5 linked regions of the Homo sapiens genome follow. The protein of the gene in region 4 purifies or fractionates together with the protein of the main gene of each other region. This does not show direct contact. Each region holds a gene or a part of one and is shown on either strand. Other genes may lie near its edges. The genes, in order: CROT, EEA1, GNPNAT1, LARS2 and PDE12.

Region 1 (4,553 bases), on a different chromosome or scaffold from region 4:
GCTCTCTAACTTTTATGTTATCTCTGAAAGGTGGCATTCTTTGCAATTTTACATATGAATATATCAAAACTCAGAAATTTAGTAACTTACCTAATGTCAAACACAGGACCCAAACCCAGATCTGTTAAGACTACAATCTTTCCCCTATACAAAACAACATGATAGAAGGTAAGGGAACCTGCAGTAAATCTTAGTGGGTAGATAGTATTTGATGTATAGAAAAGGATTATGTGTTGATATTGCATTGATATAGAAAACTTTGGAGCACAAAGTACAAAGAGGTGTGGAAGTGTCCAACTGTAGAATTAAAGATTATTATAGAATACATAAATCATATGACAAGCTGCTTTAATTGCACAGGTCGTATGAGGTCTACACAGAATGGTCTCAAGTGTTCCAAAGCAATCTTGAACATATTGACACGTGTATTAATTGCTATCAAAGAAATCTAACTCAAAATGTGAATAAGGTATACAAATGCTAAATAAAAAATGAGGTTTCTCAAAGCCTTTGTAAATTATCATATATTAATTATATTAAATAATGTAATATATTAAATGTAATTATATGTTAAAATAGCAACTGAGAAATCAAAGAACGTTAATATTGAATTTGAACTTCCTATTCTCTCAAAAACTATTTTTTAAAACTGATAGCAACGCTAAACAAAGTATTCCACTCATAGGTTACAGAATCGAACACTATCAAAAACATGGACACAGAAGAGACTATTTTCAGCTAATACCTGTTTTCCTCTGCTTTAACAGAATCCTGAGTTGTAGCTGTGCATACAGCCCCCAGTTTTATCTTTCCTACCCTCTCTTGGAGCTCAGTGTGGCTTTGTGATGACCTTGTGTGTGTCACTTCCAGGTCATGCTCCCAAAAAGGAATGCATGTGTTCTCCCTGCACTTTCCCTCCTTTTTACTACCTGCTAGGTAGTGACGAACTAAACAGCACCATGGCCTCATTTATGGAAGTCATATATGCAGGATTGCAGAATCTCCCTACTAGTCCTGGACTCCTACCTCTAGATGTATGGAAAAAAAAAAACTTCTATTTTATTCATACCATTGTATTTTGGGCTTTCTATTGTAGGGAGAAGAGCTTAGCCTGTACCACTAATATAAAGAGATAATTTGAAAATGAGAAATAATAATTAACTCAAAGTTCTTTAGCTTCTTTCTATCTATTGACTTTGGCTGCACACCATTTTGACCATCCATAAAAATGGGTTTGTACCTAATGGAAATGTAGATCTGGATCCAAGTACAGACTCTGCCACTTTCTAGCCATGTGCCCCTAGGGCAACCAACTTTAAGTGAATTTCCTTATCTTAGAGTGGTTAATCATACAATTCAATAAAGTCAGAATTTGTTTTCAATGCCTGTGAAAGCACATTATAAAAACAAAATAATCCTGCCTGAAACCACCATATTGTGGTAGGCACAATTACTATGAATGGCCCCCAAGATTCCACCCCTGCTAATCCCCAGAACCTGCGAATATGGTGAGATCATTACTCCTGTGATTGTGATATTCTCTACAGAACTGACCTTAAAATAGGGATATTATCGAATTGGAACTAATCTAATCACTTGAGTCCATAAGAGCAAAGAGCTTTCTCTGGCCAGTGGCAGACAAGTAAGACTGCTTTAATGCTTGAGAAGGATTTGTGGTGTCTTTGAAGATGCAGATGGCCTTAAAGAACTGAAAGAGGCTCAGGCTGACAAACAGTAAGGATATAGAAATGTCAGTGTGAATTCTACCAACAATCTGAAATAGCCTGGAGGTGGATTCTCCCCTAGAGCCTCCAGAAAAGAATCCAAATCTACAGAAACCTTGGTTTCGGTTTTGTGAAATTCTAAGCCAAGTACTCAGCTAAGCCCACCCAAACTTCACATTTACAGAAGCTATGAGATAATACATTTGTGTTGTTTTAATTGTTGCATTTGTGTAATTGGTTAAGGCAGCAATAGAAGACTAGTACACACATACAGAGAAGATAAGCTATTCTGTTTACCTCTGTGCCACTTAATAGACTCTAGAAAACTGGAAGCAAGAGTATTAGTTACATACCCACTATAGTGCTTAACCCACCAACCGGTACACATTAAAAATATAAATTATTGGATTCTTTCTTGAAGAGTTTTCTTGAATTCTCAACCACAAAGATTAAGTTAAATAAGATGGTTCCAATAGCACTAAGAAAATGATTATGCTAGATTTAATTAGAATTGACTTTCTGGGGGCAATTAGATATGAATTCACAGAAAGTGGAAAAGAACCACGAACAATACGTGAAGGAATTGTCACATACCAGTACACCAAGAAGATGAACTGCTTGAGACTGCCAGGAGCCTGCTGCAACAATTGTTTTGAGATCACAGGGAACTGGACTAAGTCGGTGACTGTGGGAAGAAAGAAACAAGCTTAACAAATATTTAAGAGGGAAAAAGAAATGAACAAGCTAGTGAAAGAAGGTGGAATGCAGACAAACTAGGAGTTGGGAGTTCCCAAGACAAACTTTTCGTGAATCACTGCAAACACACGCAAATAGTCCACCTGCTAGAGAGCAGGAGTAAATGATCATACAATTAAGTAGGTTTCAGACAAGTACACCTTCCATTAGACGGGTTCAAAGGGTAGAGGATACGTTTTCAGTGGCTGGGTAACAGGTTCGTCGCAGAGTGGCAAGGGGTAGAAGCAGGAGCAGAGGGCAATGAGAGCTCGGAGGCTCTTCCCACCAACCCAAGAGCAACTCTGCACTCAAGAGGCCATCAAGTGAGAGAAATCTAAGCACTACAACGGAGCAGCCCCGCGGCCCAACCTTGAGGGTACCCCTGAGACCCCAGCAGGCGAGATGCTTGATGACACTACTCCCCCACCAAATCCAGGCACCTTTGCGGTTCTGCACGACTTAACTTTCCCCCGCCCCCGAGTTGAAGGATTAGGGGAGGGAGGGAATGCTGCTTCAACGGACCTGTCCGTCCTCACCGCCCGCGCCTCGCCGCCTCTGCCGCAGCCTCAGCCTGCAGCAGCACCGGCTCGCTCCCCCTTGGGCCTCAAAGGTGCGGGAATTGGACTGAAGGCCGCTAGGGTCCCGCCCCGCATTCGCCGGGGAACAGGATTGGATAGAAAGCCGCGAGGGTCCCGCCCCTCACTTTCCGGGGAACGGGACTGGACGGACAGCTGCAAGGGTCCCGCCCCGTGCCTGACGTCGGGGGCGAGCCGGGCCTGCGCGGTAGTGGGACCCGACCCTGTCTCCAGTGGGCGTCTTGGGCCCCGGCTCTATTCTGGGCTGCGGGCCTGGGAAGGGCTCGCCGGGTGCCAAATGAGCTGTCCTAACTCTGCGGGGCTGCAGCTTCCTGCATGATGCTGGGGAGCTTGGCGCCTGACCCAGGATCTAGAAGGCACTCTGGGCAGGCCGCGCTCCGCCCACGAAGGTACCCAACCCTCTGGGATAGATGCAGGAAGCGATGGTTAAGACCCATTTTCACCCAACTTCTCGCCGCAGGTCTGGCTTACCACACGCTCCTCCCCATTCCCAGTGAGCCGCTTTTTGCAGCACCAGGCGAACACTTACACCAGTGCTTTGTAAAGGAATCTTATTGTCCACCCCGTGTCTTGGCAAAAGAACAGTGATCACACAGATTCCTACTTGGGCTCTTTCCTTTAATCTTCGGAGGCTGAGTTTGCCCAACTCAGGTATGCCGCAGCACACTACATCATCTCGGGTCTCCTTGCTCTTCTGCAGCTCTTCATTGCTACCCAAGTTATTTGAATACCCCAGGGATGCTTACCCCCGGGCCTATCTGATGTCTTTTACTGTTGTGCCAAGAAATGGAATCTTTAACCAGAGTGGAGCTACCCAAGTTCTAGAAGATCATAATGTGATTGACTTAGTTTCACAGATTAATTCATTTTGCTTTTACCTTCTGAAATAAAATATACTGTTTCATTTTTAATTTTAAATACACTGTTTCATTTTTTTGTGGAAGGAAAGACCAAATGTTTACACTGACTCTGAACTAGTTATCAAAGATAAAGATTTAGATTTCAAATTAACATGTCATGACAGGCCCCATTCCTTTGTCTGTCGTTTCTAACTCCTTTAGCAGTAAAGTTTGACCTGAAGGGAAGTGAGGCTATGTGTAACTGAATGTTCCCTTTGTGTAAATATTCATAAGTTTTCTACAGAAATATTGTGTTTGATTACAGTACAGCTTGCTGGAAGTGTTTCATAATATATGGCAGACGTACTATTCTAAGAAAAGTTCTGAATTTTGAAACATATCTAGCCAAAAAGATTTTAAATAAGGGATTAGGAATTTGTAGTTGTAATTTCTGAAGGTGTGATAAAGAACTTTTTCTTTCATATATAAGTGCGATGCTCTGGATGATGTTAAAGTTTGCTTACAAGATAAAGTTTTTAAATTGAGTAACTAAAAACTACTCAGAAACCTTCGTTGTATTTTTTTTCTCCTTTTTAGTGAGTCTTGGCATCTCTTTAAAAGTTTATGCATGTTTAATGCCTGTTGGTGCATAGAATTTA
Region 2 (4,089 bases), on a different chromosome or scaffold from region 4:
AACTTGCAGCTGGAATAAGTCAGAGAGGACTCAACTTTAAAATACATATTCCTAAAACTGACATTAATTTGGTTCTGTTTTAGTCACCATAATACATTTATTTTAAAATTTCAAATAGCATTTAAGATATTTTTTAATCAAAAGGGAGTGTATTTTTTTTTAATTTGAGAAATACCAATAGGCAGACATATCTAAACAAAAATAGTTCTTACTGATACAAAGAAATAAATGACTGGGTTCACCCTGGTTTAGGTATTTTGACATTAACATCTGAATAGCACTTTTCCTCATGAGACTTCTTTGATTCAGCCTCTCCTTGATTTCACATTTGTACTTATAGATTTATCATTGTCTTCTGCTGATTAATAATACCAGTAGGACAAGAGCTTTTAACTGGCTTCAGTAAGTTCATGAACCACCTGAAATTGTTTGAAAATTTTTGGAATTAAGTGTTATTGGGCTACAAAGTGTCAATTTTGGAAAAACTGCATCCAAATATCATAAGTTAGAGAGTGTAGTGTTAGGCATCATAAGGCCTTACATGCCTATGTGTGTTATATCCACAAACTTTCACCATCTCTTCCCATAAGATAAAGAAAGATTTTTAAAAATGAATTAGACATGGGTTATCTATAATACTTATACCCCAAAGCTTGATGACATGTTATATTTGTGAATAGAGTGGCTTTTAGATCACCAGTTACAAAACTCTAAGGAAGAGATTCAAATTAAAATGTTACGGTAACAACTTTTTAAACTGAAAATATGAAAATCAGAGGTCTACTTTACATAAGGGAGCTTAAAGACTACAAATAACAGTAGTCATAACAAAATGTCTCCTATAATAAAGTAAAAAGGACAAAGGCTAGGATTTTTAAGCACATTTATGTATTATACATCTTAGAGTTTATTAAATGCTGACATATTATACAAGGGATTTACAGGCCAAAGTCATGTCATGTAAGAAATAGTAGAAGAACTGAAAATGTTTATCTTGGAAGAGAAATACTCCGAATAAATATGAGCAGTCTTCAAATACCTCATGTGGAAAGAGGAACAATTTATTCTGTGTAATTCCTAAGGACAGAACCAGAACCAGCGCATGTAAATTACAGGGAAACAAATGTCAGCTCAATAAAATAGACTTAGGAAGAAATATGCACACCGTACACCACCTAGCAAGGATTGTGGATCACTTAGCAGGGTTGGCATAAAGGGAAGTTCTGGACTGAATTTAGACTAGTTCAAGACTTCTTTCAAATTCATAATTCAAAGTCCATCAATTAGAAATAAGCTTATGGCCGGGTGCAGTGGCTCACGCCTGTAATCCCAACACTTTGGGAAGCCAAGACAGGCAGACCGTCTGAGGTCAGGAGTTCGAGACCAGCCTGGCCAACATGGTGAAGCCCCATCTCTACTAAAAATACAAAAATTAGCCAAGCGTGGTGGCAGGCACCTGTAATCCCAGCTACTTGGGAGGCTGAGGCAGAAGAATCACTTGAACCCGGGAGGTGGATGTTGCAGTGAGCTGAGATCACGCCACTGCACTCCAGCCTGGGTGACAGAGCAAGACTTTGTCTCAAAAAAAAAAAAAAAAAAAAAAAAAAAGAAATAAGCTTATTACAAAATAAGCCTTTCTTAAATATATTTTCTAAACAAAATTGGTAATATAATTGTAGAAAATGCTATCATTCTTCCTTTAAAGTCAATTACCATTTATCAACCAACCTTGAGTAAATTTAACCTTAAATATCATGTCAACAATATATATATTAAACAGAATAATAATCTTTATGCAAATATTCCTGAGTGTCTAGCTTTATAAAGCAAAACATACTGAGAGACCACATTGACTATAAACAAATATTATTCAGATCAAAAATGAAAGAAAGACAAATATTTTGATAGGCCACTCAGAAAAATCTCAAATCCTGGCTTCACTCAATAGTATACACTACACAAGCTAATATGAATCACATTTAAGTACAATGAACTTCATTACCTCTGAGCTAGCATATTGTGACTGCAATTTTTTGCATTCATCTTTGAGTTTTTCAGATTCTCGCTCACGTTCCAAGGTCATGTTATCCATTAGTGTTTGAACTTGGACCAGTTCTTTCTTTAGCACGGCAACATCTTCTATACCAGGTCTCTGAAGCTGTGAAACAACACATTTTAATTAAAAATTAAAGTGAAAAACTAAAATAATACACATTTTTAGAATCATTTCACTACAAAGGAATCAAAAGGGAAACAATCATCAATATCAATTTTTAGACTTCAAACATTGAACACTGATATCTTCTCCCACAATAAGCCACTTCCTCTTCCCATCCTACCTCATATTTAATAGTATTAATACTCAAGGTGCTGTATAGTAAATTCACAATTATCTTTACTACTTTATTTGTTTTCCTTCCCTTCACAAACTACATCTATTGGTCATAACAGTGACTTGAAAATGCTACATTCCTTCTTTTTCTATCCTACAAAACTGGTAATAAAAATGAAGGAGCAAATGAAAGCATAGAGTTTGCTCCAGGTTGGATGTAGTTAATTTATATATTTATTGAGAGCTAAATAAAGGAAAGAAAGTCAAGGACAGATCCAAGATTATTAAGTCTTGGGAGAGTATTAGAGATGTATGGTTCCAATAACAGAAATACAGTAATGAGGAAACATGATTACTTTGATTTTATACTTGTTGAATTTGAAATTAAAGCTAGAAATTCAACACAAAGTACCCTAAAAGCAGATGGATTTATAAAACAAACATGCAAGAGAAGACCAGGATCAGAGATGCAGATATGAAAACTACTAAAATGACAGATGATATTTAGATAGAAACAACAAAAATGTTAAGGTAGTAAGTTACGTATCATAACATTCCATTTTTATTTTAAAAATCATATACAGAATATATATGCAGGTGGTAGAATATAGGGAATTGCTTATTTCCTGATTTCACTCAAATTATATTTTTAAACATTTTCCTTCAGGGTATGTATTTTATTTTTAATTTAGAAAGGTATAAGAGTACATCTCAATAAATAATTCCTAAATTACCAGTTCCGTCTTCAGATCTTGAATTACAGTTGCCTCTTTGTTTAATTCTTCTGTCAGACGTGTCACTTTTTGTTCAGCAGCTTCTCGAAGACTCCTTTCTTCATCATACTTTGACTTTATATCTAATTAAAGATAGTTATATAAATATTAGTTTAAGGGGAGGACAGTTTTATAAGTTTCCATATATTACTCTGCATATCTGTATATCACTCTAATTCAAATTCACATTCCTTAGATAACCATAAATATATACAGTAAATTTATACTTCTAATTACATGAAATGAACTTAAAATTAACTGTCTACATAAATTCCACTCAACATTAAGTTAATAATTAGCATTTTAATGTACTTAATCACATATTTTACCTAAAAGCACATGTTAAAAACATATATATGTAATAGTATAACCAAGTGTTACATTTATACTACATTATTTACTTCACTTCTTTAAAATGTTCCTTTTTAATCTTTAAGCATGCCACAGAAGAAAATGTATCTTCTCTAAATTTCAAGAAGAATCTACAAAGAAACACCAGTCCTTTGAAGGCAGGCAGCTAGAGGACAAACAAAATAATTTACATAGCAACTCTGAAATCATTAAATTCCATTAATCACCATTGGAAGTCTATCACAAATGCTTTAACACACTAAAATACTATATTTATTGCTAGGGTATATAATGGCAAAAAGGTAATGAGATTGATTTATTGGCTAAAAAATTCTAACTCAATTTACCTGCAATTTCAGTAGCAAGTTGGGCTGCTTTCTGTTCAAATAAGTCTTTCATTTGCTTAATATTAAAATTTTCTGTTTGGGCTTCTTCTAATTGCTGTTCCAAAGACTGTAGTTCTACAAAAAAGTGTCGCAGTTATTCAAATACCATGTTAATTACATATGCTAAATTGTTATTACTTATATTTATTACAGTTGTAAAGATGATCAACTTAAGTTTATTATCCAATTACAAGTAGTATTTTGACACTTCAAGAAATTAAGTATATCTGCTTCACTTAAGGTACAA
Region 3 (4,046 bases), on a different chromosome or scaffold from region 4:
CAACATCAGCCATTTACTTGTATTTTAAGTGTTGTTCATCTAAAATAGCTATATTAGTCTTTATTTTGCTAGCAGATATTTTGAATGTGTAGGTTATATTCCAATTGATACTAATTGCTGATATTTCAACTACTTGGTAATATTTTCTTTAGAAATGGAAGGTAAATTACTATGGTAAAACAGCTTTAAACATTTAGTAATTAAGTCAGCTAATCCTAATATTTTTCTGGCTCCCCATAAAATTGAATGTCTACTATGTAACACTTTGTTATCCAATTTCCACAGAATCTTTTGAGCATATGAAGAAATCTGGGGATTATTATGTTACAGTTGTAGAAGATGTGACTCTAGGACAGATTGTTGCTACGGCAACTCTGATTATAGAACATAAATTCATCCATTCCTGTGCTAAGGTATGTGCTGCTTATAAATAAAATGGACAGCTGTTTTCTAGCACAACTGACTTTGAGTTTCCATTAGACAAATCTGTTTTCTCATTGATTTTCAGTGCCTCTTAGAAATCCCTTTTCCCAGTGTGTTCTGAGAGCTTTAAGAAAGAAAATGTATAACAGTATGAATTGTATGCTAAAATTGTTCTGTAAGGTGGATCAATTTGGTATAGGCATAGAGAAACCAAACAACTTAGCAGTAATGCACAAAATCCCTAATGTTACTCTTTTAAAAAAAACAACTCTGAATATACCACGTTAGCATAAATTTGTTTCCACATGGTAAAGGGTTCAGATTATTCCGTTCTAATTATGATACATCTAATGCATGTAGTGCCCTTTCATCCCTCAATAACTCACATAAAATAGTAAATAAAAAAAGAGGGAGAGAAAACCTTAATTCAATGAGAATAAGGTAGGAACACTTGGGATGTGTTCTGTCACACTTAGGAATTTCGGTGGGGTTTCTGTACTAGACATTAATTTTATTTGGATATCTAAAATAACTTGCTAGTAAGCAAGGAGTAGAATGATGGATATATTCATGAAAAGGTTACATTTTGGTGATGTTGATCCTGATATTTGTTTAAAGACAATGGGGTGGGAAGGTTGGGGACATAGCCAAAACAAGTTTAGGTCACAACTTGACTCATACTATTTCCTCTAATAAGTAAAAACATCTTTAAATTATTAACTTTTAATAGTAGTACTCTCATACTAGTAGGAAACAAACTTTTGGGCTAATCAGATTTGCCCCAGCTTCTCTGTCATATTTAAAAACAAAGGAAATGTTCAGCTATTACAGAATATTCTATGATCTCTCCTTCTCATAAGTTGTAGAAATACATACTGAAACAGCCTTCACTGTATAATATTTTTTGCATTTGATTTCTGTTAAGTTCAAGTTTACAAAATATACTACTTATTATCAGTAAATTCTTACCAACTCGTTTTAGCTAAAAACAAAAGTAAATGCTTACTCCTTTAAACATTGTAAATATTTTCAGAGAGGAAGAGTAGAAGATGTTGTTGTTAGTGATGAATGCAGAGGAAAGCAGCTTGGCAAATTGTAAGTAGGCAGAAACAAGGTAACCCTGGATAAATTTTGTTCCAATTTAGTTTCTTAACAAGATACTTGTTTGAAGTTCTTTTTGGCTTCATTAATTCTGAACTTATTCTCACTCTAATAGTTTAGACTGAATTTCATGAAGAAATAAAGTATTATTATACATATTTTGCCTTAAAGTTTGAAAATTGGAAGCATACTTCTTTACAGACAGTAACATCTTTAAATTACTAACTTTTTATAGTAATGCTCTCGTCCTAGTAGGAGATAAACTTTTGGGCTAATCGGATTTGCCTCAGCTTCTCTGTCATATTTAAAAACAAAGGAAATGTTCAACTATTACAGAATATTCTGTGATCTCTCATTCTCATAAGTTGTAGAAATACATACTGAAACAGCCTTCACTGTATATATCTAAATCATTTAAAATAAATATAAATAAGTGGTATTGATTTATTGCCATTTTATAAGAACTTGTAGTTCTTATTTATTATAATTTTTAGTTTTTGAGACAGGGTCTGTTTTTGACAGCTCTGTCACCCAGGCTGAGGTGCAGTGGCTCAATCTCAGCTCACTGCAGCCTCAGCCTCCTGGGCTCAAGCAATCCTCTTCAGCCCCCCAATTAGCTGGGACTACAGGTACACGCCACACCTGGCTAATTTTTAAAAATTTGTAGAGATGGGGCCTCATCATGTTGCTCAGGCTGGTCTCAAACAGTGCTCCTGCCTTGGCCTCCCAAAGTGCTGGGATTACAGGTGGGAGCCACTGTGCCTGGCCCAAGAACTTGCTTTTTAACACTAACTCTTCTGAGTTTTAAGGAATTAACAAATATTAAATACCTGCTTATGTACCAGATGCTATTCTAGGTATTTGGAATACCTCAGTGAACAAAACAGACCGATTTCTTGTGTTCTAGTCTATATAATTTATGTTTTTTTTTTTTTTTTTTTTTTTTTTAAGAGATGGGATCTCTTTCTGTTGCCCAGGCTGGAGTATACAGTGGTACGATCACAGCTCACTGCAGCCTTGAATTTCTGGGGCTCAAGTGAGCCTCTCGCCTCAGCCTCCCAAGTAGCTGGGACTACAGGTGCATGCCGCTGCACCCAGCTAATTTTTTATAGAGATAGGGTTTTGCTATGTTGCTTTGGCTAGTCTCGAACTTCTGGACTCAAGTGATCCTTGGCCTCCTAAAGTGCTGGAATTACAGGCATGAGCCACTGCAACCAGCCAGGCATACTTCAGTCAAGGTCTTTTGTTTTTTTTAAAAATAGGATTTTTTAGTCTGTTCAAACATGGGCAGACCCTTCAAGTTTGTATATCTTTTATAGTTTTTATCCTCTAAGGCACTTAGATCCACACTTTAATACTGGGTTTGGATTCATTAAGAAATTTTGTATAGATGTAGACTTGCTTTGTTTCCACTTCATATTAATTAGACCAATCTTGAGTTAATCTGATACACACCTTCACAAATATTAAAGTAGCTTTAAAAATGATTAAAGAGCAAAGCTATTATGTACTCATTTTATGTGGGTATGTCGACTGCTCCGAAGTTGTTTAAATAGATTTAAATAAAGAATTTTTACAAAATAATTTTGGTCATTTTTTTTTTTAAAGGTTGAGTTTTTAGTGTTAACATGCATCTTAAAATTCGTTTTTCTTTTTCAAGACAGAGACTCACTCTGTTGCCCAGGCTGGAGTGCAGTGGCACAATCACTACTCACCGCAGCCTTGACCTCTCTGGGCTCAGGTGATCTTCCCCCCTCAGCCTCTGGAGTAGCTGCGACTTTAGGCATGTGCCATCATGCCCTACTAATTTTTATATTTTGTAGAGATGGGGTTTTGCCGTGTTTCCCAGGCTGGTGTCAAACCCCTGGGCTCTAGCGATCGCCTGCCTCGGCTTCCCAGAGTGCTAGGATTACAGGTATGAGTCACTGCACCTAGCCTTAAATTTCATTTTTAAAGAGGGCTTAGGGTGAGTTTTGTATTTGTCCTGTTTATTAGTGAGCTGGAGATTACTAGATAAAAGTATATTTGACTCTAAGTAAAAATGCTTTGGTGATTTAAATGCTTATCAACTTACATGAATGCAGTGGGAAAAGCCATAATCTAAACCTGTTTCTAAGGAAACTTAAGTTTTATAACATTAATTCATATTGTTACTAGAATCAATTTTTATTAATAAATGCTATCTCCTCACCCTACCCCCTTTTTAAATTTCAGGTTATTATCAACCCTTACTTTGCTAAGCAAGAAACTGAACTGTTACAAGATTACCCTTGAATGTCTACCACAAAATGTTGGTTTCTATAAAAAGTTTGGATATACTGTATCTGAAGAAAACTACATGTGTCGGAGGTTTCTAAAGTAAAAATCTTGTAAGAAAATTGTCAAAGGGGCTAATGCTACAAGGCTACACTCTTCCTAGAGTTGAAATATTTTGTTGCTGCAGCCGAGTGACCTCCATAAATACTGGACTGAAAAAACATTGTAATACTACAAGTATAATGACATTTAGAAGATTACTTTGG
Region 4 (4,089 bases):
CCAGTTCACAACAGTGAAAGGGCTGGTGTGCCCCAAACCATGATGCTAAGGCAGCAGAACAGAGTTGGAGGCTACGATTGCCAGGGAAGGGGCAGTTACTTCTCAGAACATGTAGCCAGCGAGGAGCCCAGGTGCCTCTCCTGGAGTCTCAGATATGACCCTGCCAGATCCCTGTGTGCTGCCCCACCATGCAATGGACCACAAAGGACCCATCATCTGGTAGAGCTCCTATTTTGATGAGCTTCCCCAGTAAATGTTGCTCTAGAACACCTGGTTTGCTGCTGTCTGTCATACACCTCGTGCGCAATATTACTATGTGTGCATCCACCACATTGGAAACTCTTGTAAACACTACCTTTGTATCACCTCATTTATGCCTCCCAATCCATTTACCCCTCCCAATAGTGCAGGTGGGCACTATTATGATCACTCTCCATCTCAGATAAGAGAATTGAAGCACAGAGAAATTCAACAATTTGGTTCAAGGTCACATATTTAATATCTTATTTGAACCAGGTAGTCTAACCCCAGGGTCCAAACCTTCAACCCCTCTTCTCTACCCTCTTAGAATCTCTCAGAATACTCACATCAGCTTCTGAAATTTTGGAGGCCTGTTCTTTTATTCGTTGATGCCACCATTTCTCAACATCCTTTCTTGTCTGCAATGTATACTCTTTTGTCCACTTTCCCGTGGCACTGTAGATGCTTCTGGTACATCCGGGAATTACTCTCCTTTCCCACTTGATGACATCTGGCCCACCATTTAGCTGTCTTTTCAGAAGAGAGGCATAAAAACCCAATCTCTGCCAAACAGAAGCCATTCTTCAGAAGGTGAGAAGGCCCTGAAAAAGAGGGCAGAAAGCACACTATGAGCTGCCTCAAACCCTCCCCAGAGCTTATCTTTCCATTTGGCACAGTCCAGTGTTCTGGCCCTGTGCTTTCCTCTTACTTTTAATAATTTCTTTCCCTGAAAAGAATACTTTAGCAATTCAATTGAGCTAAACACAAACTTTTTAATAGAAAATATAAAGGGTCAGTAACCCCTAACATCAAAGATGCAAAAATCCTGTAGGAAAAAATGGAGACCATCAGCTGGCCAGCTCCTGCGCAACCTCACAAGTTGCATGGAAGGCATGGAGTGCCCTCCCTCCCCTCCCCATGGGCCAGCCCAGGGACTCTCCAGCAGGCTTCACTTCTTATGTCTTCAAGCCTCAGAAGAGCTCAAGCACATGCTGAGTTGGCGTTAGGCTCAAATATCAGAAGGGGTCTAAATACAGGCCTCCCAGGAGGGCCAGAAATTCTGAACTACTATTAGTAATTTTTATACATATTATGAGTTAAATATACCCTGTAGGCTGAACCAGAAAATAACCATTATTTAGAAGACTGTTAATTCATTTAGTTTCTCCTTCATTTACCAAATATTTATTTATTTATTTACTTACTTTTTAGAGACAGGGTCCTGCTCTTTCACTCAGGCTGGAGTGCAGTGGCATAATCATACCTCAGTGTAACCTCTGACTCCTGGGCTCAAGCGATCTACCTGCCTTAGCCTACCAAAGTGCTGGGATTACAGGCGTGAGCCACCACCAAATATTTAATGACTACCACTAGGCCCACACGTTGTTCTAAGTACTGGGAATATAGCAGTAAACACAAACAGAGTCCCTTCTTTCTTTCTCTGTTTTTTTTTCTTTTTTGAGACAGAGTCTCGCTCTATTGCCCAGGCTGAAGTGCAATGGCATGATCTTGGCTCACTGCAACCTCCACCTCCTGGGTTCAAGCAATTCTCCTGCCTCAGCCTCCTGAGTAGCTGGGATTATAGGCATGCACCAACATGCCCGGCTAATTTTCGTATTTTTAGTGGAGATGGGGTTTCACCATGTTGGCCAGGTTGGTGTCGAACTGCTGACCTCATGATCCACCCACCTTGGCCTCCCAAAGTGCTAGGATTATAGGCGTGAGCCACCACACCTGGCCCAGAGTCCCTTCTTTCGTAGCACTTATTACATACTAGCAGGGAAGCAGATAAGAAACAAACAATAAGGGAGGCAGATGAGAAACAAAAATATATAACATGTGGTCACGGTGAGTGCTATTTTTTGAAATACAACTCATAGGTTGGGGCCTACCAGGATATCCAGTTGTGATTCAAAATCCAATTTTAATGTTTCGTTGGCTTCTTCCACAGGTAAATACTGGAAATGACCTCACTGAAGAAGTTTCATGTTTTATTGCTATTCAAAGGGTTGAGGTGAGATTTTTATCAAATATTTAAGATATAAATACTAGACTAAATAGCCTAAACTTTCTCCTTCTGGCATAACAGCATTCAAGAAGTGCTACAGTGAAAAAACAGATGACAACAGATCTTTTCAAAACCAGAGAGAAATAAAGAAACCCGGCACTCTAAGCTGATGTTCTTTGATTCTCTCAAAATTCCACTTCTATCAGGATTTGGCCTGTTTCACAAAGGTACTAGAACACAAATGTTGCCAGGAAGGTCAATATAGGCTTATAACAGTGAGTTTCAAACTCACATAAGACAGCAACATAATGTGGGCATCTTACAAGTTGGTCTGCCAAAGTCATTGACATTATCAGTTCTCACTACATTAAACACCTCTTGCTTCTTCAGGGATAGAATAAAGTGCAGACTTAAAAAAAAAAATCTCTCTTAGGCCACGGGCAATGGTTCACGTCTGTAACACCAGCATTCTGGGAGGCTGAGGCAGGCGGATCACCTGAGGTCAGGAGTTCGAGACCAATCTGGCCAACATGGCAAAACCCCTTCTCTACTAAAAATACAAAAATTAGCTGGGCATGGTGACGTGCATCTGTAATCCTAGCTACTAGGGTGGCTGAGGCAGAGGAATAACTTGAACCTGGGAGGCAGAGGTTGCAGTGAGCGCCACTGCACTCCAGAGCCTGGGCGACAAAACAAGACTCCATCTCAAAAAAAAAAAAAAAAAGATAAAAAAGAAATCTCTCTATTAGTTGGGCTTGGCTATTTTAAAGTACACAGATCTGATTACAGGCATTTGAACTATATGAAATTGGTTAAATGTTAGCAATTCCATATGACTGACCTAATATACATACGCTTTGTACACTTAAGGCAATTGCATATATTTTTAGGGCTTAGGTTGCTATAATTAGAACTCCCTAATTATATAGAAGTCACAGATTTTATGGTTCTCTTGCCAAGTCAATACTTTCATACCTTTGCAAGCCAAAGAACGCCTGTTTAGCAGAGGACACATAGATGGATGCTTGCCACTTCTCTCCTAGACAGCATCCCCAAAGAACACCTAAGGAGTGTTCTGGGCTATCCTCTCAAATAGAAACAAAAGGGCACAACAAAATTATAAAATACAGTGACTTGAACTGCTCTGCCTACACTGTCTGTCTACACAACAAGAATAAGCTTTCTAAAAATGTTCACATAATACCTGGCTTACTAATGACCTCTGCTTTGCTTAAATAAACCAGTGAACTAGAGAATCCTGAAACAGATCTGGGTATTTAAAAGCATTTAAAGTTCATTTTTTTAAAAAAGCAGGAGCAGATTAGATAGTAATAGATTATTCAACAAATAAGAGAAAAACTTAAAATTAGAGCCCCACCTCAAATCATAAGCCGGAGTAAATCCCAGATAGATTAAATAATGTTTTTTATCTGTAGGTCTGGATCTGAAAAGCAGAAAAATAAAATAAAATAAATAAATTAGAATATTTTTAAAGTGTCATAAAAAAATAAAAACACAGATGGATTTTGTTTTTTTTTTTTTTGAGTCAGAGTGTCGCACTGTCGCAATGAGATCGTGCAATGGCGCAATCTCGGCTCACTGCAACCTCCGCCTCCCGGGTTCAAGAGATTCTCCTTCCTCAGCCTCTCGAGTAGCTGGGATTACAGGCGCCCGCCACCACACCCGGCTAATTTTTTGTATTTTTAGTAGAGACGGCGTTTCACTGTGTTGGCCAGGCTGGTCTCTAACTCCTGACCTCGTGATCACTCTGCCTTGGCCTCCCAAAGTGCTGGGATTACAGGCGTGAACCACCGCATCTGGACCACAGATGAATATTTAAT
Region 5 (4,089 bases), about 12 Mb from region 4:
GCACCACTGCACTCCAGCCTGGGTAACAGTGAGACTCTATCTCTTAAAAAAATTATGCTGAGAATATTTTCTGAGTTGTCACATGGGTCTTGTGATAAACTAATAATGCAAACTTTTATTTTTCATTATATATAAATATTGGATTTATCCCAACCAAACTAGTTTGCAGGGAACCTCTGCCTTTATTTCACGGCTGGAGAATGAGATACAAAAGATGTCAATTTCCATCGTAAGAACTTTCCACAGTAGTGTTCTTTGGACATTCTCTCCCTTGTATTAGGCTCCTCAGAAATCTATCTCCAGACTGAAACCAGCACATTCTGATGAGATCATAGCTTAGTACTCAGAAAAATCACTACTCAGTGGAATTCTTGAAATTTTGAAACAACTGATTTTAGCATACAGAATTTCAAAAAGAACATACATTACAGCCAGAAACGATTGTTTGCTCATGAATTTTGATTATTGGCAGACACATTTGCTGTAGCGGCAACTGTGCAAGAGTTCATTTTAACAGAATAATATGTTCTGAAATACTCTTTTATAATCAATATAAAATTCTAGAATGTTAATTCCTATAGCAAGAACTTGTGACATTATAAAATGTGGTTTACCATAGAAAGTCGCTAGATTTCCCATGTTTTCTTAAAATTAAATGTACTAAAAAATCCAAATGTAATAGAAAAATGCAATCACATAGGTGCTTTAAACAGACATTTCTGAATAACACTGCATTCTAACTCATGAGTACAAAGAAATGTGTATGCTATTTATACATTTTCTTAGTGTTCCCTACCTTTGGACTCCAATCATTTTAACGTATCCGTATACTGGAGATTTGATCACAGTATATGGCACTTCACAATAACATTCCATGTCCTAATAATGTGAAATGCCTGTATACAATCTGAGTATATTGTTTAGTCAGAAAACATCAAAATTAAGGATATAGGACATGGAATGTCTGTTAAGTGCTGAGTTTTTCTGACTAGAGTTTAATCTAGCCAGTGTTAATGTGGAAGCTGTATGCTTTTTTCATGGGCATGTTCGAATTTTTTCTTTCAAAATGTTTCTCAACTTTTTGATGTGACACTTTGTTTTCTCCCAAGTCACTCTAAGGGTTCTATCAACATCTTTCTTTGAAAACAGCCCAAAAACATATTTTTAAAATGAAAAAAAAATTCACAAGAGAATCAAGATTTGGTTTTAATCTATTATTTACATATTTGTAAACTGCTGTTAAAATGCTCTCAAAAATGTTATTTAGGAAGGCACAATTTGGTAGCATCAATTTTTTATTTATAGTTTTTTCTAAACAAGATCCGAAGAAACTTCCACTTTAATTTTCCCCTTGGAGTACTTAAAGTACTTCAAGGTTCAATGTCAAATGCAGATAAAACCCCTTCATTTTCAAACTTACTAAGTGTTAACAATACATTTGATAGTGAGCAGAATATGAAAGTACAGATGTTATCAAAAGAGGAAATTCTTATGATACTAGGTTCAGAGATTAAAGAATTTGAAACAAGGGCTTTCATGACTGGGGAAAATCAAAGCTTTTCTTGAAGGGAGTGGGCTTTTAATACTCGAGCTATTAATTAAATGCAGAAATGAGATAACATAGTTATCCTGAACATCAAAAAAGCAACAGCTAATACAGCTAATGCATTATAAATAATGTATTTCATAACTGAATTAGTAAAGCATGGTTACCACTCTAGGCTAGACACTAATCAGTATAACCATTTGTAGTTTCTAATTTTAAAAAGTTTGGCTTCATATTTAAATTTCATTTTACTATATATATATTACATATATACACACTGTTGTCTGTAACTCAAACTATAATGCTTGTCTGTAAAAAGAAGTTTTTTATTTCAGAGATGCTTAAAAGTCCCACTACTCAACCTTTTTCCTGTTTATAAAAACCAACAATTTTGAAATTACTTCTAGTGTAGAAATGCTCAATGATTCATCCAAAATTTCAAGCCCATATCAGTAGGTAGTTTCTCATAAAGTAATGTGCTGTATTTTCTAATATCATATGGTCAAATACCCTGTTCATTTATGAACATTTTTCATGGGCAAGAGTAACTGAAGACAATGGGATCAAGTTGAATATGTTGCTACTCACTTTGAATACTAAATTGTGCTTGCATCCTAAAAATTAAAATGAGCTGCAGTAAGAATTAGAATATAAACTGTGTTCATTTGTACCATACACTAAAAACTAAAATCCTAAAAATAAGAATGAAAATACCTTACTTGTTCATTGAAAAATGAAAGATGAGAAGCAATAACAATTGGTGACGATTTATTTTTATCTTTTGTTAAAGCTCTGAAATTGTAGTAAATCGCTAACTAAATTGAGGTAGAGGTAGACCCTAATGTTACTCCTTCCATGTGTCAAGTCTCTCACCTTAGGTCTCTAAGGTCACCTATAACTTAAGTCTCTCACCCTTAACTTAAATACATTTTCCCTCTTAGTACATAAGCATGATTCATTTTGGAATGTGTTGTCATGAAAGAAAAATTAAGATCATTCAAATGGTACTTTAAAAATTCTGAACTCCTAGCTAAAAAAATTCTCTTATAAAAATGTACACAAGGGCCGGGTGCGGTGGCTCACGCCTGTAATCCCAACACTTTGGGAGGCCGAGGTGGGTGGATCACCTGAGGTCAGGAGTTCAAGACCAGCCTGGCCAACGTGGCGAAACCCCATTTCTACTAAAAATACAAAAATTAGCCAGACATGTTGGCGCACGCCTGTAATCCCAGCTACTCGGGAAGCTGAGGCAGGAGAATCGCTTAAACCCAGGGGGCGGAGGTTGCAGTGAGCCGAGATTGTGCCATTGCACTCCAGCCTGGGCAACAAGAGTGAAACTCCATCTCAAAAAAACAAAAACAAAAACAAAAACAAACAAACAAAAAACACGCTAATTCAATCTTCCTTTTCTGAGAGTCTCAATTTGGAGAAAAATAATTCAATTTTCTATTTTGCTAGTAAGAAATATATTTGTTTCTCCTCCAATTGTAGAGGAAAACAAGGAAAGAGAAGATGTATGATGCAAACATCAACAGTTTCATAACGAAGACATCAGGAACATAACTAGGAGGGCTGAACATTTTACCATTCCTCCTTGAAGTTTACATATAAGCTTTGATTCATATTAAATTTTCTGCTAAAATAACTACTTCCTTTTCAGACTTCAATTCCATTAAACACACATCTATTTCCATTTTAAATCACATACAAGTGCTATGTGATCAGAGGGATGGGAAACACTAGGTAAGGCCTGGTGGGTGGTAACTTCTTCATGACTAGGTAATGGAATCACCTGTTCAACCTCTAAAGCATTTAAGTCAATGAAAATGTAATCTAGACATCCATGAAAGCCACCAACATAATTTGTGTAAGCAGGTTCACCACAAGCACTTTTCAGCTTGAAGAAATGTGTAAGAGACATATTGCATCTTTCCTCCTCCCCATTGGAAGCCCAGTCTTCATGATCCTCTGGAATGCTGCCATTGATGACAAAATGATACATTCCTGTTGATGGTGTACTATTAAAGTCCCCACAAAATATAACTGGTATGCCAGGATACAGATCACATGAAACATGTCTTATGTGAGCCAAGGCTACTGCCATTTGAATGAGGCGAATATACCCACCTATGAATATAAAAAACATTAATGTAAGTATTTTTTAAAGTTGTCTTTAAGTTAAAAAAGAAAAACTACACAAATTACAGTCTCTGGGTGACGTTCAAGATATGCATTTGTGTAAAACACTTTAAACAACTTTAAGCGTGTTTAAGTCACTTGTGATACCAAATAAAACCTACCTTTAGGATGCCAGTAAAGATGGGTATTAGCAACACATATCCTTTTAGAAGAGTCCTTTGTAGACTGAAGAACTGAAACCTAAAATAAACGGAAAGTGCCAAGAGTTCAGTTGGCATTTGCAAATCTCCTGAATGTTTTTGTTTGTTTGTTTGTTTTTTTGAGTTTTTTCGAGACAGTCTCACTCTGTCAACCAGGCTGGAGTGCAGTAGCGCGATCTCGGCTCACTGCAAGCTCCGCCTCCC

The links.
Region 1: the proteins of LARS2 (region 4) and CROT fractionate together in Homo sapiens (co-fractionation; one large-scale study listed by BioGRID). This does not show direct contact.
Region 2: the proteins of LARS2 (region 4) and EEA1 purify together in Homo sapiens (co-immunoprecipitation; one large-scale study listed by IntAct). This does not show direct contact.
Region 3: the proteins of LARS2 (region 4) and GNPNAT1 purify together in Homo sapiens (co-immunoprecipitation; one large-scale study listed by IntAct). This does not show direct contact.
Region 5: the proteins of LARS2 (region 4) and PDE12 purify together in Homo sapiens (co-immunoprecipitation; one large-scale study listed by IntAct). This does not show direct contact.

The regions. Positions count from the first base shown.
Region 1 is NC_000007.14:87,344,196-87,348,748, reverse strand, and holds the start of CROT (peroxisomal carnitine O-octanoyltransferase), read right to left. Parts: upstream 3,086-4,553; 5' UTR 2,982-3,085; intron 2,410-2,981; 5' UTR 2,319-2,409; intron 1-2,318. UniProt on the Homo sapiens protein: Beta-oxidation of fatty acids. The highest activity concerns the C6 to C10 chain length substrate. Converts the end product of pristanic acid beta oxidation, 4,8-dimethylnonanoyl-CoA, to its corresponding carnitine ester.
Region 2 is NC_000012.12:92,849,109-92,853,197, forward strand, and holds part of EEA1 (early endosome antigen 1), read right to left. Parts: intron 3,918-4,089; coding exon 3,804-3,917; intron 3,189-3,803; coding exon 3,067-3,188; intron 2,159-3,066; coding exon 2,003-2,158; intron 1-2,002. UniProt on the Homo sapiens protein: Binds phospholipid vesicles containing phosphatidylinositol 3-phosphate and participates in endosomal trafficking.
Region 3 is NC_000014.9:52,778,151-52,782,196, reverse strand, and holds part of GNPNAT1 (glucosamine 6-phosphate N-acetyltransferase), read left to right. Parts: intron 1-285; coding exon 286-413; intron 414-1,456; coding exon 1,457-1,518; intron 1,519-3,738; coding exon 3,739-3,886; 3' UTR 3,887-4,046.
Region 4 is NC_000003.12:45,391,186-45,395,274, reverse strand, and holds part of LARS2 (leucine--tRNA ligase, mitochondrial), read right to left. Parts: intron 3,693-4,089; 5' UTR 3,627-3,692; intron 843-3,626; 5' UTR 822-842; coding exon 588-821; intron 1-587.
Region 5 is NC_000003.12:57,559,146-57,563,234, reverse strand, and holds part of PDE12 (2',5'-phosphodiesterase 12 isoform 1 precursor), read right to left. Parts: intron 3,926-4,089; coding exon 3,847-3,925; coding exon of another isoform or gene 3,815-3,846; exon of another isoform or gene 3,674-3,814; coding exon 3,231-3,673; 3' UTR 1-3,230. UniProt on the Homo sapiens protein: Enzyme that cleaves 2',5'-phosphodiester bond linking adenosines of the 5'-triphosphorylated oligoadenylates, triphosphorylated oligoadenylates referred as 2-5A modulates the 2-5A system. Degrades triphosphorylated 2-5A to produce AMP and ATP.